Linked DNA regions of Homo sapiens: region 2 is linked to region 1. The links come from fine-mapping of genetic effects on gene expression. A gene starts in region 1. The other region holds a variant in brackets. All regions are shown on one strand. Distances are from middle to middle.

Evidence for each region. PIP is the estimated chance that this variant, and not a neighbour inherited with it, causes the effect.
Region 2: its variant is fine-mapped to the expression of TMEM44-AS1 in minor salivary gland (GTEx, PIP above 0.99).

The regions. Positions count from the first base shown.
Region 1 is chr3:194,579,715-194,588,930 of GRCh38, reverse strand. TMEM44-AS1 (TMEM44 antisense RNA 1) reads right to left here and starts at 4,663. Exons shown (of 3, transcript NR_047575.1): 1 at 4,483-4,663. It overlaps TMEM44 (transmembrane protein 44), which reads left to right. Exons shown (of 10, transcript NM_001011655.3): 10 at 292-1,253. The coding sequence ends at 402. RefSeq lists enhancers at 1-243, 4,647-4,696, 4,732-5,397 and a silencer at 4,887-5,146.
Region 2 is chr3:194,620,073-194,629,986 of GRCh38, reverse strand. TMEM44 (transmembrane protein 44) reads left to right here. Exons shown (of 10, transcript NM_001011655.3): 2 at 1,478-1,604; 3 at 3,997-4,090; 4 at 6,292-6,458; 5 at 6,677-6,763. Among named protein-coding and RNA genes, the nearest start is that of TMEM44-AS2, 7.9 kb to the left of the region's middle. RefSeq lists an enhancer at 6,795-7,338. The variant C/G (reference allele first, on the strand shown) is at 4,227.

The sequences.
Region 1 (9,216 bases):
TCACTAGATAAGGACTTGGTAGAGGCAGAGAAGAGTGGAGAATGAGGGCGGGAAGGAAAGTGAAGCTGTTATGTTTAGGGTGGTTGTTCATTAGTTGCTTGATGTAAAGTTATGCTTGCCTCCTTAGGTCCCAGAAACACAGGCCTGGGTAACTTGTCCTTACCCTTTTGTCCTTGTCTGTGCCTGGATCATGAGAACCAAGATTGGAGCTTTTGTTTGGGTCAGGGGTTATGACAGATGAGAAGCATCTATCCGTTCCACCCAGCTACCCTTTGCATCTTTTCTCCATAGTGGGACCCTGAAGATGTGAACCTCGAAGGCAGCAAAGAAAATGTGGAGCTACTGGGATCCCAGGTGCACCAGGACTCTGTGAGGACAGCACACCTGAGTGATGATGATTAACACCTTCTGGAGCCAGCTCATCAGCTCAGAGCCCAGGGTCAGGAGTTCGTTCAGTAACGCAGCGGGAATCAATCTGCACTGACACCGCGGCAGGAACTGAAGCTGCCCTGGCAAGTGAGGAACCAGGAGCCGTCACTGAGTGTGGCTGGGCTACATCATAGCTCATCACGGAGCTACGACTTTGGGTACTGCGGACAGACCTGGATAGGCCCAGCATTCGTTCTGAAGATCACAGTTCACAGAAGCTTTTGCTTCGTAAAGATAATCCAAAGGATCTCAGACCCGCTCTTCCTTTTCCCTTCATTCCCTTGAGAGTCAGCCATGAACGGAATACCTGCTAGGTTCCAGGAATGAGCTCACCTAACAGATAGCAAATGTGTCTGGTTAGATCTCAGCAGAGCCCATTCTGCAAGACCTGGCTGAGCCAGATGAGAGGGTGGGCCCTGTGCTGGGGGGCCTTGGGTCACACACAGGAACCGAGACCTGGCTTCCACCCCCCAGTCACCCACTTGGGTTATCTGCTGGAAGTTATCGATAGGACTGTGTGGCCAACCAAGTGCTTGTGAGATCACTGACACTGCAAAAACAAAGCAAACTGCTCCGGGTACCAGGACTTCCTCCAACCTGGCAAGGGTGTGCGCTGAGGCGGGGCTTGCAGGTGAGGGGGCTGTATGCTTCAGGAACTAACTAAATGCATGCAGAAGGTAAGAGGCATGATGGGAGGTGTTCAAGCACAGCAATCCCATTTGGGAGTTATTTTGATACTGCGATGAGTAAGGGTAAGGGCGCATGGAATGGGGCTAAGGTGGGAGTGAACACTGGGGTGAATAAATTTTAAATCAATTCAAGTATCTCACTGTGGAGTGCAATGGCGAGCATGAATCCCTGCACAGTCACAGAATGACGTCGGCCACGAGAGGAAGTGGAGAAATGCCAAGCAACACAGTTTTGCTCCGGGCTGGCCCACAGCCGCCTGCGTGACGCAGCTACAGCAGCCCAGTTTCTCCTGAGGGGTAGGGCAAGTTCCAGCAGCATGAAGGGGGTCCCTTGGGGAAGCAGCGTGGCTCTGCAGGTCTCTGCATAGATCCTAATCCCCTGGGTGACCTCTGAACTACAAGTGATCTTAAAGCCACTTTATTTATCCCCTTTAATCTGAACTGTGTTGGTCCCTGGTTGTCTTGGAAAGTTTGCTGAAGTCAGCTTTGCTTTGTGATGTTAACCACTGAAGCTGTACTTCCAGGGAAGAGGAAGATTTGAATGGAGACCCAGGATGCAGGGAGAAAAGAGTGTTCAAATAGATGAAATAGTACAGAGGACTGGATGCAGGGAAAGGTGGGAGCTAGCAAGGAAGAATCTGAGATGGCCAGAATGGATGATGTAGTATGGGCTGTAGGGGTGGCAAAAAGGCTGAAAAGGAACCAGACTGGAGGCTGGTGAGTCAGTGCTTGGTTCTGTGGCCAGCTGGTAGCCATGGAAGATACCAGAGTAGGAAGGTGACTGACTTGCCTCAGGAAGACCACAACTGATTGGTGAGTTTTTCATTCCTATGGCTACAACTTTCCAGGAAGCAGAAATATAGTCATGGGTACAGAATGAACGTGGGGAACAGGTTTAATCTAGAGTACTGAGTGGTAACAGCAGGGCAGAAGAGCTTCTCTTTAGAAAGGCGGAAGGCATGGGGATAGGATGACCTCTGGAGTTTGCCTTTAGCACATCCTCTGTCTTGAGGGAACTCTGGATCATGCTCCCTAGGGCACCAAAAATTGGTGGGATCCAGGTGAAAGTGGCCATTCACCCAAGAACATCAAATGATCTTGGCCAGGTGCAGTGGCTCACACCTGTAATCCCAGCACTTGTGGTAAGCTGCGGCAGGCAGATCACTTGAGGACAGGACTTCAAGACCAGCCTGGCCAACATGGTGAAACTCCATCTCTACTAAAAGTACAAAAAATTAGCCAAGTGTGGCGGCCCGCACCTGTAGTCCCAGCTACTCAGGAGGCTGAGGCACAAGAATTGCTTGAACCCACGGGGTGGAGGTTGCAGCGAGCTGAGATCGCACTGCTGCACTCCAGGCTGGGCAACATAACAAGACTGTCTCAAAAAACAACAAAAACCTTGCTGACTTTGAGTAACACGAACTACCTAAGGTCCAGATATCATCTATCTCCCTAGATCCTGTTAGCCCAGCCTCCTCCCTTCACAAACTGGTTCCTATCATCACGGTCCCAGCTTGTCTAAGGGTGTCTCCGGCCTCTTCATCCACAGTGAACTACCAAACTGGGAATTTTGGAAGCGAGGTTTGGCTTCATTGTTCAACGAGAATCTTCCTGTATGCAAAGCTCTAGAACACTGGAGCCTTTGTAAGGAGGTGCCAATTAAAATGCCTGTCTCCTAGTAGGAGTGGGCCTCTGTTGCAGCTTTGTTTCTAGCCGTTAGACCAAGAGGGCAGTGGGAGCAACTTGCTCTGATGACCCAGTGAGCAGTGCAGGCACTTTACCTACACTGGGGAGGGGCTGGGGAACAAACTATGTAATCATTGGCTCACTCATCTGGAGACCTGTAGTATCATCTGGTTGTGCCGCCTATCATCTGTGTGGCTTGGAGCATGTCACCTAACCTTTGTGAACTTCTTAGGTAGACTAAGAATAATACCAACCTAGAAAGCCTATGGTGAAGACTAAGTGAACTAACATGTATGAAAATGCAAACATAATACCTATTCAAAGAAGACTTTGGAGAGGGATTAGTTTTCTTTCCCCCCATGCTTCCTGCACACATGTACTGAAAGAGTAACCAAATAATTAGACCTGCAGATGGAAGAGATTTCAGAGGTTTGAATGCCCTTAAACACAACCCCAATTAGTGATTATCCAGTCTCTACTTAAGTTCTCTGAAAAAAAGGATATCAGTTGCCAAGTCTTTATCATTTAGCGAGAGCTCTGCTAAGATGATGATGATGATGATTTTTTTTTTTTTTTTGAGATGGAGTTTCACTCGTTGCCCTGGAGTGCAATGGCACGATCTCACTTCACTGCAACCTCCGCCTCCCAGGTTCAAGCGATTCTCCTGCCTCAGCCTCCCGAGTAGCTGGGATTACAGGCTCCCGCCACCATGCCTGGCTAATTTTTGTATTTTTAGTAGAGACGCTGTTGGCCAGCCTGATCTGGAACTCCTGACCTCAGGTGATCCACCTGCCTCAGCCTCCCAAAGCGCTGGGATTACACGAATGAGCCACCGCACCCAGCTAAAGATTTTCTTGAAAGCCTGTCTAGATCCTGAAGAACTAATCCCCTTATCTCCCTCCCTCAGTATGATGAAGAGATTTATGAGCATCATTTGAAGACACATTCATATTATGTTTCTTTCAAAGGGGTATGAGCTCCTAGAATAAGAAGAGGCACTGGGCCAAGGAGCATGGCTGGGCTCCAGTTCCCAGGTCTGATTCAGTGTGATCTTTGTCATTTCCTTTTCTATGTCACAGTTTCCTCATCTGTAAACTGAAAGTTGGGCCTGATTTTTTTCATTTTTTCTCTTTTATGCATGTGCCAATTTGTTTCCCACAGAATACTGACATCTTTATAAGCTCTCAAGAAAGACATTATAAAAACAAATTTCAGATATACTTTGAACATAGGCTTCATTATACGACATATACCTCTTTCTGTTTGGATTTTACTGTCCACTTAATATAAAAACCTGTATTAATCACTAAGGAAAAGGATAGAGGAGACTTAGAAATATCTCCAGAATAATTTTGCAACAATTCCAAGATTCTCTGCACTTCTTTTTCTGTCCCTTAATTGGCCTCCTCCACATTTTCCAACTATGGAGGTATTGCTCTACTCTCTTCGACTTTACATTGTTTTAGAATGCTTTTGCAAGGAGACTCTGCCTTGAATGAACCCAAGATATGGTGCAATGTTGAGGAAGATCTCCAAGTTTACACATGCCTGTACGATGGCCCAAAGGTCATCATCAGGTGAAAGGGACGACCTTAGAGATGAAAGAAGTTCAAGGAATGGTGCTACATTAAATGACTTAGCATTAGAAAGCATCTACTTTGCTTTTTCTTTCACCAACCCTGAAAGCCAAATAAGGCACTGGGCATTCAGGCCTTCTTTTGAGCAGAACACGTGATTACGCAGTTATTCTTCAAGAGCCTCTGTTAATCTGTCGCTTGGAGAACTCTGCATACTGTCCCAAATCCGTCTGAATTTTCCATCGGCTGCCAGTGTTCGTAGCAGAGGCCTCGGGTCTTCTCGTCCTCTCCTCAGGGTCTGGCAGCTGTCACTACCGTGGACTTCGGTCCAGTCCCCAGAGTCGGGGGCGCTGCCTTTCCCATTTCAGTTGCCAGGGGGTTCATCCACGATCGTGCCAGAGGGGCAGCGCGTGGTCTCCTCGAACTACGGGGGAGAGAGGAACCACTGTTGGCACGGGCCGGACTGAACGCCGGCTCCCACTGCCTACCTCCTCGGAGCTGCATCCGCCGACATCTTGCGCCCTACTCCCAGCACCAGCAGGGCACTTCCGGGAAGAACGGAATTGCGGTTCCGCGCGTGCGCACTCCGCAGCCACCGCCTCCCGCGAGGAGCGAGAGTCCCGCGGCCCCGCCCCGCCGCCGCAGCCGCCGCCGCAGCCGAAGGCCGGCGTTTCTGACCTCAGCCAGCGGCGACGCAGCCGGGAAAGAACTGTCGAGGGCGTCTCCGTAGTTCAGTTTTGGTTTGTTTATTTGAGACGGAGTCTCTGTCGCCCAGGCTGGAATGCAGTGGCGCGGTCTCTGCTGACTGCAGCCTCCGCCTGCCGAATTCAAGCGATTCTTCTGCGACTGAATAGCTGGGACTACAGGGGCGCGCCACGACGCCCGGCTAATTTTTGTATTTTTAGTGGAGACGGAGTTTCACCATGTTGGTCAGGCTGGTCTCGAACTCCTGACCTCGTGATCCGCCCGCCTCGGCCTCCCAAAGTGCTGGGATTACAGGCGTGAGCCACCACGCCTGGCCCACCCCACTCGGTTTTTAAGGAGATAATTACAAGGTTATTTTACGGTTCATAGTGTGTTTCAGACCTCCCAGAAGCCTAACGGTGTATTATAAACCATTCTTTTCTTTGTTTTTAAATGCATTAAAAACCTTTTTTGAGATAAAAATAGTGCAAGTACATGGTTTAAAAAAAGAAAATCAGATTGCACCAAAAGGTTTATGATGAAAAACAATAATGTTCTGTCCCTTTGCCTCCAAGAGACTCCTTTTTAAAATCTTTTGGGCTGGGCGCGGTGGCTCACGCCTGTAATCCCAACACTTTGGGAGGGTGAGGCGGGCGGATCATCTGAGGTCAGGAGTTTGAGATCAGTCTGGCCAACATGGTGAAACCCCGTCCCTACCAAAAATACAAAAAGTAGCCGGGCGTGGTGGTGGGCGCCTGTAGTCTCAGCTACTTGGGAGGCTGAGGCAGGAGAATCGTTTGAACCGGCGAGGCAGAGGCTGCAGTGAGCTGAGACCGCGCCACTGCACTCCAGCCTAGGCAACAGGAGCAAAATTCTGTCTCAAAAAAAAAAAAAACTTTTATACCTTCTAGTAGTTGTCTCCATTAGGTTTGATTTGGAACATGCTTTCCAGCTACAGGGTTCTTAAGATCATACTTGCTTTTCCTGAGCTGCATCATCTTCAGCTTCCATTATACAGGCTGACGAGGCTCAGTAGCACGGCAGGGCCACTGGCGTATTGAGAAATGGATGGTCACCGTCTTCGCATCCGAGGGTTGTGTGGCGTGCCTCGCGCCAGGAACTCCTTGGCCACTCCGCAGTTTCCTAGCTAGAACCCGGCTTCTGAGCCCAGCACGCTCCAACAGCAGCCTGCCGCGGTCCACGCCTCTGCTCCGGACTTGACCTTTCCCTTCCGGCCTTCCTCCTACAGGTGTCTTGGCACCTGGAATCTCCAGAGGAAATCTGAGGGATTCTCTAAACCCACAGCTGGAACAAGGGACGTCATACACGGCGGCCACCACCATCTTTCCCAAGGACAGCATGGCCATGGATGAAAAGGGCCATTTCATGGGCCTTACCTTCTGCTAGCCAGTATAGCCTAAAGCCCTGATACTCAAATGTAGACTCTTAGGCTCCACCCGGAGGATTCCCTAGGTCTGGGCAGGGCTTGGGAAGCTTAGCAGGCTCCTCAGGTGATTCTGCTACAGATGGTCCAGGACCAGTCTCTGAAAAACACTGTCCTCGGGAAATTGCTTTTATGTATTTACTTTTTCCATCTCTTCTTGGTATTTTGTTATCATTTTCAAATACAGAGACGGAGTCTCACTATGATGCCCAGGCTGGTTCCGAACTCCTGGGCTCCAGAGATCCTCCTGCCTTGGTCCCCCAAAGTACTGGGATTACAGGCACAAGCCACCACTCCAGCCGGGAAATTACTTTTAAAACAGATCTATTTGTATGAGATGTTCTCACAAAACTACTTAGAATAGCAAACAAACAAAAAAAAAGTGATAAAGCTCCCAAACCCCACTGTTGTGCAGAATTAAACATACTTTTTTTTTTTTTTTTTTGAGATGGAGTCTGTCTCTGTTGCCCAAGCTGGAATGCAGTGGTGCCATCTCAGCTCATTGCAACCTCTGCCTCCTGGGTTCAGGCGATTCTCCTGCCTCAGCTTCCCGAGTAGCTGGGACTACAGGCGCGTGCCACCATGACTGGCTACATTTTGTATTTTTAGTGGAGACGGGGTTCGCCATGTTGGCCAGGCTGGTCTTGAACTTCTGACCCCAAGTGATCCACCTTCCTCGGCCTCCCAAAGCGCTGGGACTACAGGCATGATCCACCACACCTGGCCCAAACATTATGCTTTAATGAAGAAATGACATTTTGCCATTAAACCTAAAATATCACAGAACCATGGATTGAAGAACAGACATGAATTACCTTGAAATCATCTACTGCAGTGCCTGAGTGGCTTTGCCTGTTCTCACAGCATGAATTCTCAGTTCACACACAGTAAAAAAAAAAAAAAAAAAATTATGAAAGATAATGTCAGCTAATAGGCCGGGTGCAGTGGCTCACCCCTGTAATCCCAGTACTTTGGGAGGCCAAGTGGGGGCAGATTACCTGAGGTCAGGAGTTCAAGACCAGCCTGGCCAACATGGTGAATACCCCGTCTCTACTAAAAATACAAAAATTAGACACACGCCTGTAATCCCAGCTACTCGGGAGGCTAAGGCAGGAGAATTGCTTGAATCCAGAAGGCGGAGGTTGCAGTGATCACTGCACTCCAGCCTGGGCAACAGAGCAAAACTCTGTCTCAAAAAAAAAACAAAACCATAATGTAAACTAGTAAAGGTAGAACACAAGAGAGCTTGAGCCACCATTCACAATTATAAGAAAAATTTTGATAGATCAGAAAAGTCTTAGAAGTCATTAGATTCTGTTGTAAAAAGATTATGTGGATTTTTGTAGTAGATGTTTCTTGACTGTGGAAATACTTAAATACATCTTAAGAGAACTGTTCTAGTTTAAAGGAGTCTGCAGTGGGGATGGGGTGGGAGAGCTATATGGGATTACTGGGACAATTGAGCAAATTTGAATATGTACAGTGTATTAGCTAACTTTATTGTTTCCTTTCTTAATAATATTATGGTTGCACAGGAGAACGCCCCTTTGGATATACATGCTGAACTACTTAGGAGTGAAGCACCGTGATTTGGCAACTGACTTTTATTTTTTATTTTTTATTTTTATTTTTTGAGACAGAGTCTCGCTCTCTCGCCCAGGCTGGAGTGCAGTGGCATGATCTCGGCTTACTGCAAGCTCCGCCTCCCGGGTTCACACCATTCTCCTGCCTCAGCCTCCTGAGTAGCTGGGACTACAGGCGCCTGCCACCATGCCTGGCTAATTTTTTTTTGTATTTTTAGTAGAGACGGGGTTTCACCATGGTCTCGATCTCCTGACCTCGTGATCCTCCCGCCTTGGCCTCCCAAAGTGCTGGGATTACAGGTGTGAGCCACCGCACCTGGCCCCAAGCAACTGACTTTTAAATATTTCAGCAGAAAAAAATTATAAATTTTTCAGGTAGTTGGAGAGAGACAAAGCAAACGGAAAAACGGGAACAATGGATTAATCTAGGCGAATAGCATAAACATGTTCGTTATTCTTTCATCTTTTCTGTAGGTTGGAAGTTTTTCAAAGCCAGCTGGGTGAGAAAGAACAGGAGTAAAGAAAGATTCTCGCCAGGCGTGGCTCACGCCTGTAATCCCAGCACTTTGGGAGGCCGAGGCAGGTGGATCACCTGAGGTCAGGAGTTCGAGACCAGCCTCACCAACATGGAGAAACCCTGTTTCTACTAAAAATACAAAATTAGCCGGGTGTGGTGGCACCTGCCTGTAATCCCAGCTACTCAGGAGGCTGAGGCAGGAGAATTGCTTGGAGCCAGGAGGCGGAGGTTGCGGTGAGCTGAGATGGCGCCATTGCACTCCAGCCTGGGCAACAAGAGCGAAACTCCATCTCAAAAACAAAAAAAGGCCGGGCACAGTGGCTCACGCCTATAATCCCTGCACTTTGGGAGGCTGAGGCGGGTGGATCACCTGAGGTCAGCAGTTCGAGACCAACCTGGCCAACGTGGTGAAACCCTGTCTACTAAAAATACAAAAATTAGCCAGGCGTGGTGGTGGGCACCTGTAATCCCAGCTACTCGGGAGGCTGAGGTAGGAGAATTTCTTGAACCCAGGAGTCAGAAGCTGCAGTGAGCTGAGATTGCACCACTGCACCCCAGCCTGGGCAACAGAGCGAGACTCCATCTCAAAAAAAAAAAAAAAAAAAAA
Region 2 (9,914 bases), 41 kb before region 1:
CAGGGGCCCTATCAGTGACGCCGATGGAAACAGCCAGCCCCTTCGGGAGGCAGTACGACAGCGTATTATTTCAGGGGCCCTATCAGTGACGCCGATGGAAACAGCCAGCCCCTTCGGGAGGCAGGTACGACAGCGTATTATTTCAGGGGCCCTATCAGTGACGCCGATGGAAACAGCCAGCCCCTCCGGGAGGCAGGTACGACAGCGTATTATTTCAGGGGCCCTATCAGTGACGCCGATGGAAACAGCCAGCCCCTCCGGGAGGCAGGTACGACAGCGTATTATTTCAGGGGCCCTGTCAGTGACGCCGATGGAAACAGCCAGCCCCTTCGGGAGGCAGGTACGACAACGTGTTTCAGAGGCCCTATCAGGGACGCCGATAGAAACAGCCAGCCCCTTCAGGAGGCATGTACGACAATGTATTTCAGAGGCCCTATCAGTGACGCCGATAGATACAGCCAGCCCCTTCGGGAGGCATGTACAACAACGTATTTCAGAGGCCCTATCAGTGACGCTGATAGAAACAGCCAGCCCCTTCCTGCCCTTCCGTGCATCTTCTCCAGTGGATATGGACTGGGGAGGGGCTGTAAGGGGAGAAGTGGCTGTGGGGGCGCTGAGGGAGGGACAGCTCCAAGTGCCAAAAGGGCTCTGTGTTTAAAGAACATGGACACAGGCCAGCAGAAGCCAGGCTGCCCCACTTCACAGATGGTTTAGAAGAATTTCGTTTGAATTTATTTCAGAGAAACAAGTTGTCTTTTTAATTCAGGCAATTAACTGTGCTCTGCAGTTATCTGCAGTGGTTGGGTTGCTTTTTTTTTTTTTTGAGACGGAGTCTCGCTTTGTCACCCAGGCTGGAGTGCAATGGTGTGATCTTGGCTCACTGCAACCTCTGCCTCCTGGGTTCAAGCAATTCTCTTGCCTCAGCCTCCGGAGTAGCTGGGATTACAGGCGCACGCCACCACACCCGGCTAATTTTTGTATTTTTAGTAGGGGCGGGGTTTCACCATGTTGGCCAGGATGGTCTCGAACTCCTGACCTCAGAGGATCCTCCTGCCTCGGCCTCCCAAACTGCTGGGATTACAGGTGTGAGCCACCATACCCAGCCTGAGTTACTTTTATAACCCTCCTGTTTCCTTTTCAAAAAATAAAACCCGATGGCTGCTTTTTCAGTGCTAGGTGGGGGGTCATCAAATGGAGCCGTCCTGATTTGGAGTCGGAAAGTAAAATTCCTCTTCCTCCAAAGAGGCGGTGTCTTCACATCTCACGAGGTCTAGCTCCTGCCATGGGCATCTGGACAGGCGGCTCTGGAGTCTTCTGATTGGTTCCCATCTGTAAACTCAGTTCAAAAACACGTCCTAAATACCTCGGGCAGAAAGAGCTCCCTGACGATGCGGGGTCACAGTTGCCCTTTTTAGATACATGCGTTTGGGTCCAAACTCACAGTTGCTGTGTTCTGTCCACACCCCTGTCACCCCAGGCTTCTCTATCTGAGATGTGCACAGAAACCCAGACAGGACCAGTCGGCACTGTGTGCTGCGTGCTGCCTCCTGACCAGTCTGTGTGACACCGTCGGGGCTCTTCTGGCCAGACAGCTCACAATCCAGGTATGTTGGGCCTCCAGCTGACAGTGGCTTAGGCCAGCACTAAGGGAGGCCTGGCCTTTCTCTCTGCTGCAGCCGTGGTGGCTTTTGTCTTGTTGCTGCAACATGCATAGCACAGTGTCACCTCAGAACCTGTGCCTGGCTGTTCCTTCTGCCCCCCTCAGAGGCTCTTGTTCCCAATATCCACTTGGCTGCCTGCTTAGTCCTTCACGTCTTTGCTCAAAAGTCACTTCTCACGGCCAGGAGCAGTGGCTCACACTGTAATCAACACTTTGGGAGGCCGAGGCAGGCCTCTAAATAGATTAGAATAAGGGAATCCAGAACACTGGTGGAAGAGGTGGGTCACCATTATAAGCAGGGGAGGTCTTATTGAGAAGGTGACTTTTTTTTTTGCTTGTTTGTTTTTTGAGACAGAGTCTTACTCTGTCGCCCAGGCTGGAATGCAATGACTTGGTCTTGGCTCACTGCAGCCTCCGTCTCCTGGGTTCAAGCAATTCTCCTGCCTCAGCCTCCCGAGTAACTGGGATTACAGGCGCACGCCACCACACTGGCTAATTTTTTGTATTTTTAATAGAGATGGGGTTTCACCATGTTGCCCAGGCTGGTCTCGAACTCCTGACCTCAGGACAATCTGCCTGCCTCAGCCTCCCAATGTGCTAGGATTACAGGCCTGAGCCACCACGCCTGACCTGTTTATTACTTCTTGTATGTGAACTCCCATTAGAGTGTCAGCTCTACAAGGGCAAGGATTTGTTCACTGCTGTATCCCCATCACTTAAAACAGCACCTGGCTCCTAGTAGGTGCCCAATACATAGTCATTTAGAGCTTTGACCCAGCCCCAGCTTATGTAGGGTGGCTGAGTCCTTTCCCAGGTAGTGGTGTAGGCTTTGGGGCAAGTGAGAAGTAGTTTCAAGTTTCTCAAAAGCGTAGGCCCTCAAACCTGTGTGGAAGGCTCCTATCCCAAAACACATATCCCCAGGAAAACCTGTTGTGCCCTCCTGCGGAGGCACCTCATGGGACTGGTCTTGGTCTTATGCCCATCCAGGTAGAAATGAAGGAAGGCAGCTCAGTTGGCAGAGCACAGATTTGGAGCATTCTAGACCCTGCTTCAAGCAGTGTTGTCTCAAAAGCAAATCACCTTTCATTTTGGGTGCCCATTCTCATTAGCTAATAGAATACAATAGGGCCAGCTGGGCACAGTGGTTCATGCCTGCAATCCCAGCACTTTGGGAGGCTAAGGCGGGCAGATTGCCTGAGGTCAGGAGATCAAGACCAGCCTGGCCAACATGGAGAAAACTAGCTGGGCGTGGTGGCGCGTGCCTGTAGTCCCAGCTACTCAGCGGGCTGAGGCAGGAGAATCACTTGAACCTGGGAGGCGGAGGTTGCAGTAAGCCGAGATCGTGCCACTGCACTCCAGCCTGGGCAACAGCAAGACTTCGTCTCAAAAAAAAAAAAATACAGTAGGTCCCAGCTCAAGTCCAATAATAATATTTATTAAAAACTACCCTGTCTCTACTAAAAATACAAAAAAAAATTAGCCGGGCGTGGTGGCAGGCGCCTGAAGTCCCAGCTGCTCGGGAGGCTGAGGCAGGAGAATGGCGTGAACCCAGGAGGTGGAGCTTGCAGTGAGCCGAGATCACGCCACTGCACTCCAGCCTGGGTGACAGAGCGAGACTCCGTCTCAAAAAAAAAAAAAAAAAAAACTTAACTACATACTTGGCACTACAGACCGTTTTGTGTTGACTCCTGGAATCCCAGCATCCTATGACATGAGTGTCCTCATTATTCCTGTTCTACAGATGTAGAGACTGAAGCATAGAGAGGTTAAGGGTCACCCATCTAGTAAGTAGCAGTGCCAAGATTCCGCGATTCAAACTCCACAATGCAAGTTCTTCACCGCTAACTCTACTATCAGAGGAGCTGGTGCCTTTAGAGGTAGTTTGCTTTCCCATAGACACTGGTGTAAACACTGCCCATGTACTGTCTCAAGTAACCTTCCTGACAGTCTTTGAGGGAAGCACTGTTAGTTTGCTCGTTTTACAGATGGGGAAACTGAGCGCCAGAGAAGCTCAGTGGGCCAAGGGTACACAGCAGAGACTGCCTCACGCAGTGGGAAGTGTGTGGAATAGAGCTGGAGGGCTGGGCTCTTATCCCAACCCTGCTGGTGGGCATCTGCATACCGTGGGTTCAGTCATGTAAACACCTCATCTCCTCATCAGCCAAGTGGACATGATAATGGACTTTTCCGGGGTTGGCAGGAGGTGTCCCTGGAGGAGTACGTAAGAAAGCACCGCATCAGTGTAACCCATGTGATACAGGGTCCCGGATGACAAACTCTGTAGGGGCTGAGGAAAGATGCTTGAATGCCAAGACTCTCTTCCCGTTTGCTCCCAGGTTTTCACTGGTGCCTACCTAGCAGCTATTGACTTAGTGAACTTTATGTTCATTCTCTTCCCAGTCTGTGGATCCAAATTCAAGTCTAATTCAGGTGAGTGTGTGGCTGTCTTTTCCTGTCTTTATTCACCCATTCATTCATCAGCACGCCGAATGCCTACTCCTTATCACTCCCAGAGCGGGCCCCAGCCAGGCACAAACAAAGGAGAAAGGCTGGGCGCGGTGGCTCA[C/G]GCCTGGAATCCCAGCACTTTGGGAGGCTGAGGTGGGCAGATCATGAGGTCAGGAGATCCAGACCATCCTGGCCAACATGGTGAAACCCCTGTCTCTACTGAAAATACAAAAACTAGCCGGGTGTGGTGGCGTGCGCCTGTAATTCCAGCTACTCGGGAAGCTGAGGCAGGAGAATCGCTTGAACCCAGGAGGCGGAGGTTGCAGTGAGCTGAGATCGCACCACTGCATTCCAGCCTGGCGACAGAGCAAGAGTCCGTCTCAACAAACCTGGTGACAGAGCGAGACTCCGTCTCAAAAAAAACAAAAAACAAAAACAACCCCCCCCCCCCAAAAAAGAAGGAGAGTGTCTCATTAGGGCTGCCAGCTTGGAGGTGTGTGCACACTGTGGGCAGCCAGAGGGAGGGAAGGGCTGCTGGTGTCAAGGAAGCATGGGGCACTAGAGCTGGGGCCACAGGCAGGGCACTCCAGGCACACAGAGCAGCATGGGCAAAGGCTAGGAGGAGGTGTGGAGCAGGGCATGGGCATGAGCAGTGATAGCTTAGTGTGCAAGTTCGGGGTGGTCAAGCGAAGCTTCACAGCTACTGGAAGTGGATGCCAGGAATGGGCACAGGGCACCACCACAGGCACAGCAGGGGTCGGAAATGACTGGGCCAGGATGAGTGGCCCCGAGTGTCTGTGGTTGCGGCTTCTTGAGAAGGGTCAGCCATGTGCTTGGGCCCTTGTTCAAAAAGAGGGGATGAGGGGGCCGGGCATGGTGGCCCACACCTGTAATCCCAGCACTTTGGGAGGCTGAGGCAAGCAGATCATTTTGAGGTCAGGAGTTCGAGACCAGCCTGGCCAACATGGTGAAACCCTGTCTCTACTAAAAAAATACAAAAATTAGCTGGATGTGGTGGCATGCACCTATAATCCCAGCTATTTGGGAGGCTGAAGCAGGAGAATTGCTTAAACCCGGGAACTGGAGGTTGCAGATCGCACAACTGCACTCCAACGTGGGCAACAAGAGCAAAACTCTGTCTCAAAAAAAAAAAGGGGATGAACCAAGTGGTGTGGTGGCTCATGCCTGTAATCCCAGCACTTCGGGAGGCTGAGTTGGGAAGATTGCTTGAGGCCAAAAGTTTGAGGCCAGCCTGGGCAACATAGCAAGACCCTATCTCTACAAACATTTTAAAAAGTAGCTGGGCATGATGGTGCATGCCTGTGGTCCCAGCTGTTTGGGAGACTGAGGTGGGAGGATCACTTGAGCCCAGGAGGTGGAGGCTGCAGTGAGCTGTGATTGTGCCACTGCACTCCAGCCTGGGTGACAGCGAGACCCTGTCTCAAAAATAATAAATGAATCAGAGGGGGTGCTGCAGCAGTGTGTAGTGAAGCATGCCCTCAGCGGCTCAATGCTGCCCAGAAGAGAAATGCTCTTCTTAGAGTTTCTCAGGAGAGAGCTGGGCAGTGGCTTACACCCGGAATCCCAGCCACTCATGAGGCCAAGGTGGGAGATCGCTTGAGCCCAGGAGTTCAAGTCCAGCCTGGGCAACCTAATGAGACCTCATCTCAAAAAGAAAAAATAAACAGAATTGCTCAGAGGAGTGCCTATCTTACAGTTCAGGGACAAAGACACTGCTCATTGCTGTTTGTCCCGCGCACAGTTCCCGCTGGTGCCATCGCTGATTCACGGGTCGATGCTTGTACCACACTTGTACCGGTTCTGCTCTGTGGAGATTGTAGAAACCACCAGAGGATGGTGCCTTATCCTTAGGCGCTCTAGTCCAGAAGAGGCACTGCTGTCTGCACGCAGATGCATAGAGAGAAGATAATGTCATCTCTGCCTGAGGAAGGAGGGCAGCACGTTATGGGGGTGGGGTGTGCAGTCAGTGGTGGAGAGGAAAGACTCCTTGAAGAGGTGGCACAACTACAGGGCCCTGAAGGGTGGGGAGGAGCTGGCCTGCAGAATAATGTGGGAACCCGCTTCAGCATCATGTGGGGAGCTGACACCAGTTCTTCCCACGCAGCTATCTGATCTGACAAGGTCTGGCTTCCAGGAGCCATGTGGGATTTTGGTGTCTGTTGCAGATCGGGAAGCCCGAGAGAGGAAGAGGAGGCGGCAGCTCAGGGCCAGTGTGTTTGCCCTGGCCCTGCCGCTGAGCCTGGGCCCGTGCTGGGCTCTGTGGGTTGCTGTCCCGAAGGCTTCAGCCACCATCCGGGGGCCACAGCGGAGGCTGCTAGCGAGCCTGCTGCAGGTGAGGCTGGGCCACCGTGGGGAGGACTCGGGGTACTGCATGTCCTGCCAAATGCCCAGGGTGGGATGAGGCCGGGGCTAGGGGAGTGGGGTTAAGCCTTCCTTTGTTGGAAGAACCCTCTAAAAGCAGAAAAGGACTCCTGAGCTTTGGCTGTTTCTTGGGGCACATGGGCAGTCTCTGCAGAGTACTGATGGTGGATCACCTGTTCGTTCTTGCAGGAAAATACTGAGATCCTCGGCTACCTGCTGGGTAGCGTTGCTGCCTTTGGCTCCTGGGCTTCTCGGATCCCCCCTCTCTCCAGAATTGTGAGGCCGGGGGTGGGGATGGGACTGTGGGTCACATGACAGTCTCAGGGCATCTGGGAGCATCCTGAGAGGGTCATGGGGCGGAGGTGTGGCGTCACCGTGGGTGCATGGACATGGGCTCAGCTTTTCCTGAAGAGCGTTAGTGTGTATGACAGCAAGGAGGGGGTGTGTGTGGAGAGTGGGCAGCCAACCCAGGGCGTCCTGAGGACGGCGGGAGCCTCTCGGGGAAAGCCCGTGTGTTCTTCCCCATTTCCTATAGCAAATGAAAAGCAGGCTCTGAGGAAGAAGCCCCTGAGGCTGAACCCATAAGAGAAGGAGATTTGACACCGGACAGGCAGCCAGGTGTGAGGTTCTGTGTAGATCAAGAGTGTCTTAGGCCGGGCGCGGGGGCTCACGCCTGGAATCCCAGCACTTTGCGAGGCCGAGGCGGGGCGGGTCGCTTGAGGTCAGGAGTTGGAGACTAGCCTGACCAACACGGTGAAACCCTGTCTCTACTAAAATACAAAAATTAGCCAGGCATGGTGGTGCATGCTTGTAATCCCAGCTACTCTGGAGGCTGAGGTGGAGAATCGCTTGAACCCAGGAGGCAGAGGTTGCAGTGAGCCGAGATTGTGCCACTGCACTCCAGCCTGGGCGACAAGAGGGAAACTCCGTCTAAAAAAAAAAAAAAAAAAAAGAGTGTCTTATGGGCAGGCATTCTCCAGGCATCCACGTTGAGGGAGGCCCTGTGTCGGCCAGTGCTGGGGGGGGTAAGATGTGAGCAGGGGCGAGCGCTTGCCCTCCGGGAGCTCAGTCTCATGGAAGACACGGGAATGTGAAGCAGCATCTCCTCACGCTTCAAGAAAGATAGAAACAAATGTTTGGGGTTTCAGAAGAGAGAGAAGGCTCCTACGCTCTTCAAATGAGCAAGGGTGAAAACTGTTTACACTGCCAGACCGTGGGGTGGTGGGGAGGCGTCACGTTACCTCAGAAGGGAGCGTGAATTTGAGGACACAGGCTAGGGAAAGGCCATCGGCAGAGGAGAGCACACAGGAAAAGCCCCCACGTGCGAAAGCGCCTGAGAAACAGCAAGACACTGTGGACGTGTGACCGCTGCTCTGCCAAGTTTCCTCTGCAGACGACTCTGAGACAACTGTTCCTGTCTCACTGACAGAACAGTGGGCAAACCCAACTCCATGGCAAGTCATAGGCCCATTTAGTCTGAAAAGAATCAGCTGGGTGCGGTGGCTCATGCCTGTAATGCCAGCACTTTGGGAGGCCGAGGCAGGTGGATCACCTGAGGTCAGGAGTTCAAGGCCATCCTGGCCAACATGCTGAAACCCCGTCTCTACTAAAAATACAAAAACTAGCCAGGCGTGGTGGCGGGTGCCTGTAATCCCAGCTACTGTGGAGGCAGGATGGATCACTTGAATCCAGGAGGTGGGGGTTGCAGTGAGCCGAGATCGTGCTGCTGCACTCCATCCTAGGTGACTGAGCACTACTCCATCTAAAAAAAAAAAAAAAAATTACTTGCCCAGGAGCATCTTGGTTGAATAGCAGCTCCAGGGGAACAGGATTCAGGGCTGGAGGGTTGTTCGCGGTTGTTGGTGAAGTCAGTGAAGCTGCATTCTGTGCTGTGACTGCCAGAAGCCTCGCAGGGCCTGGGCCTCATCAGCAGGTGTCCTGTCTTTAGATTAATGGAGGGGAGAGTGGTGAGCACTGGGCTCAGCTCAGCAGCCCACCGGGGTGGCTCTCCAGGGTGGTGTCAGAGCTGGGAGACCACATTGCATGAAGGCCTTTGAAGAAGCTGGCACCGTGCCCTGACCGCCGGTAGTAGCTCCCTAGGGCTGTCGTAACAAAGTGCCACTAACTTTCAACAACAGAAGTTTATTGTCTCGGTGCCAGAGGTCAGAAGTCTGAGAGCAAGGTGCCGGCAGGGCCATGCTCCCTCTGCAGGCGCCAGGGAAGGATCTGTTCCAGGCCTCGCTCCTCTCCCAGGTTCGGGTAGCCCCTTGGCTTGTGGTAACCCTGGGTTTCTCGTGGCCTTCCCTCCGTACCTTTCTGTGTCCGACTTGCTCCTTTTTATAAGGACATTGGAATGGGACTCATCCTAATGACCTCATCTTGACGTGATCATCCACAAAGACCCTATTTCCAAATAAGGCCGCATTCACAGACACTGGGGGTTGGGACTTCAACATCTTTTTTTTTTTTTTTTTTGAGACAGAGTCTCGCTCTGTTGCCCAGACTGGAGTGCATGATGCAATCTCGGCTGACTGCAACCTCTGCCTCCCGGGTTCCAGTGATTCTGTGCCTCAGCCTCCCAAGTAGCTGGGATTACAGGCACACGCCACCACGCCCGGCTAATTTTTGTATTTTTAGTAGAGACGAGAGTGCACCATGTTGGCCAGGCTGGTCTCGAACTACTGACCTCAAGTGATCTGCCCGCCTTGGCCTCCCAGAGTGTTTGGCCTCACAGGTTTGAGCCACCACGCCCGGCCTAGGGACTTCAACATCTTTTGGGGGCACACATTGCAACTCATAACACCACCCCACCTAAAACAGCCCCCAGGCCAGCCCCACCACTGTGTCCCCTCACTCTGCTTTATTTTCTTCAGATCATTTGTAACAACCTGAAATGTGCCCCTTTATTTTCCCGGTTGCTGCCCGGTCCTGAGGTGGAATGTTAACACCTTGTGGGCAGTGGCCTTGTCTGTGTCATTTCCCACTGCATTGCAGGCACCTGGGACCTGATCATGGTAGGAGTCAGCAAACACTTAGAGAGCAATCTAATCTGGCCTGGAAAAAAGGAAGCTGATGAGTGCAGGAATCAGAAGGGCTGTGTGGGGGCAGAAAGAGCAGCCTTGTTCTCTTAAGTCTCAGAGAACAGAACCAAGACAGGGAAGAGGTTGGGGGTGGGCCCTTCCTGGTATTTTTTTTTTTTTTTTTTTTTTTGAGTCGGAGTTTCACTTGTCAGCCAGGCTGGAGTGCAATGGCACGATCTCGGCTCACTGCAAACTCCGCCTCCTGGGTTCAAGCGATTCTTCTGCCTCAGCCTCCCGAGTAGCTGGGACTACAGGCATGCACCACCACGCCCAGCTAATTTTTGTATTTTTAGTAGAGACAGGGTTTCTCCATGTTGGCCAGGCTGGTCTCGAACTCCTGACATTCG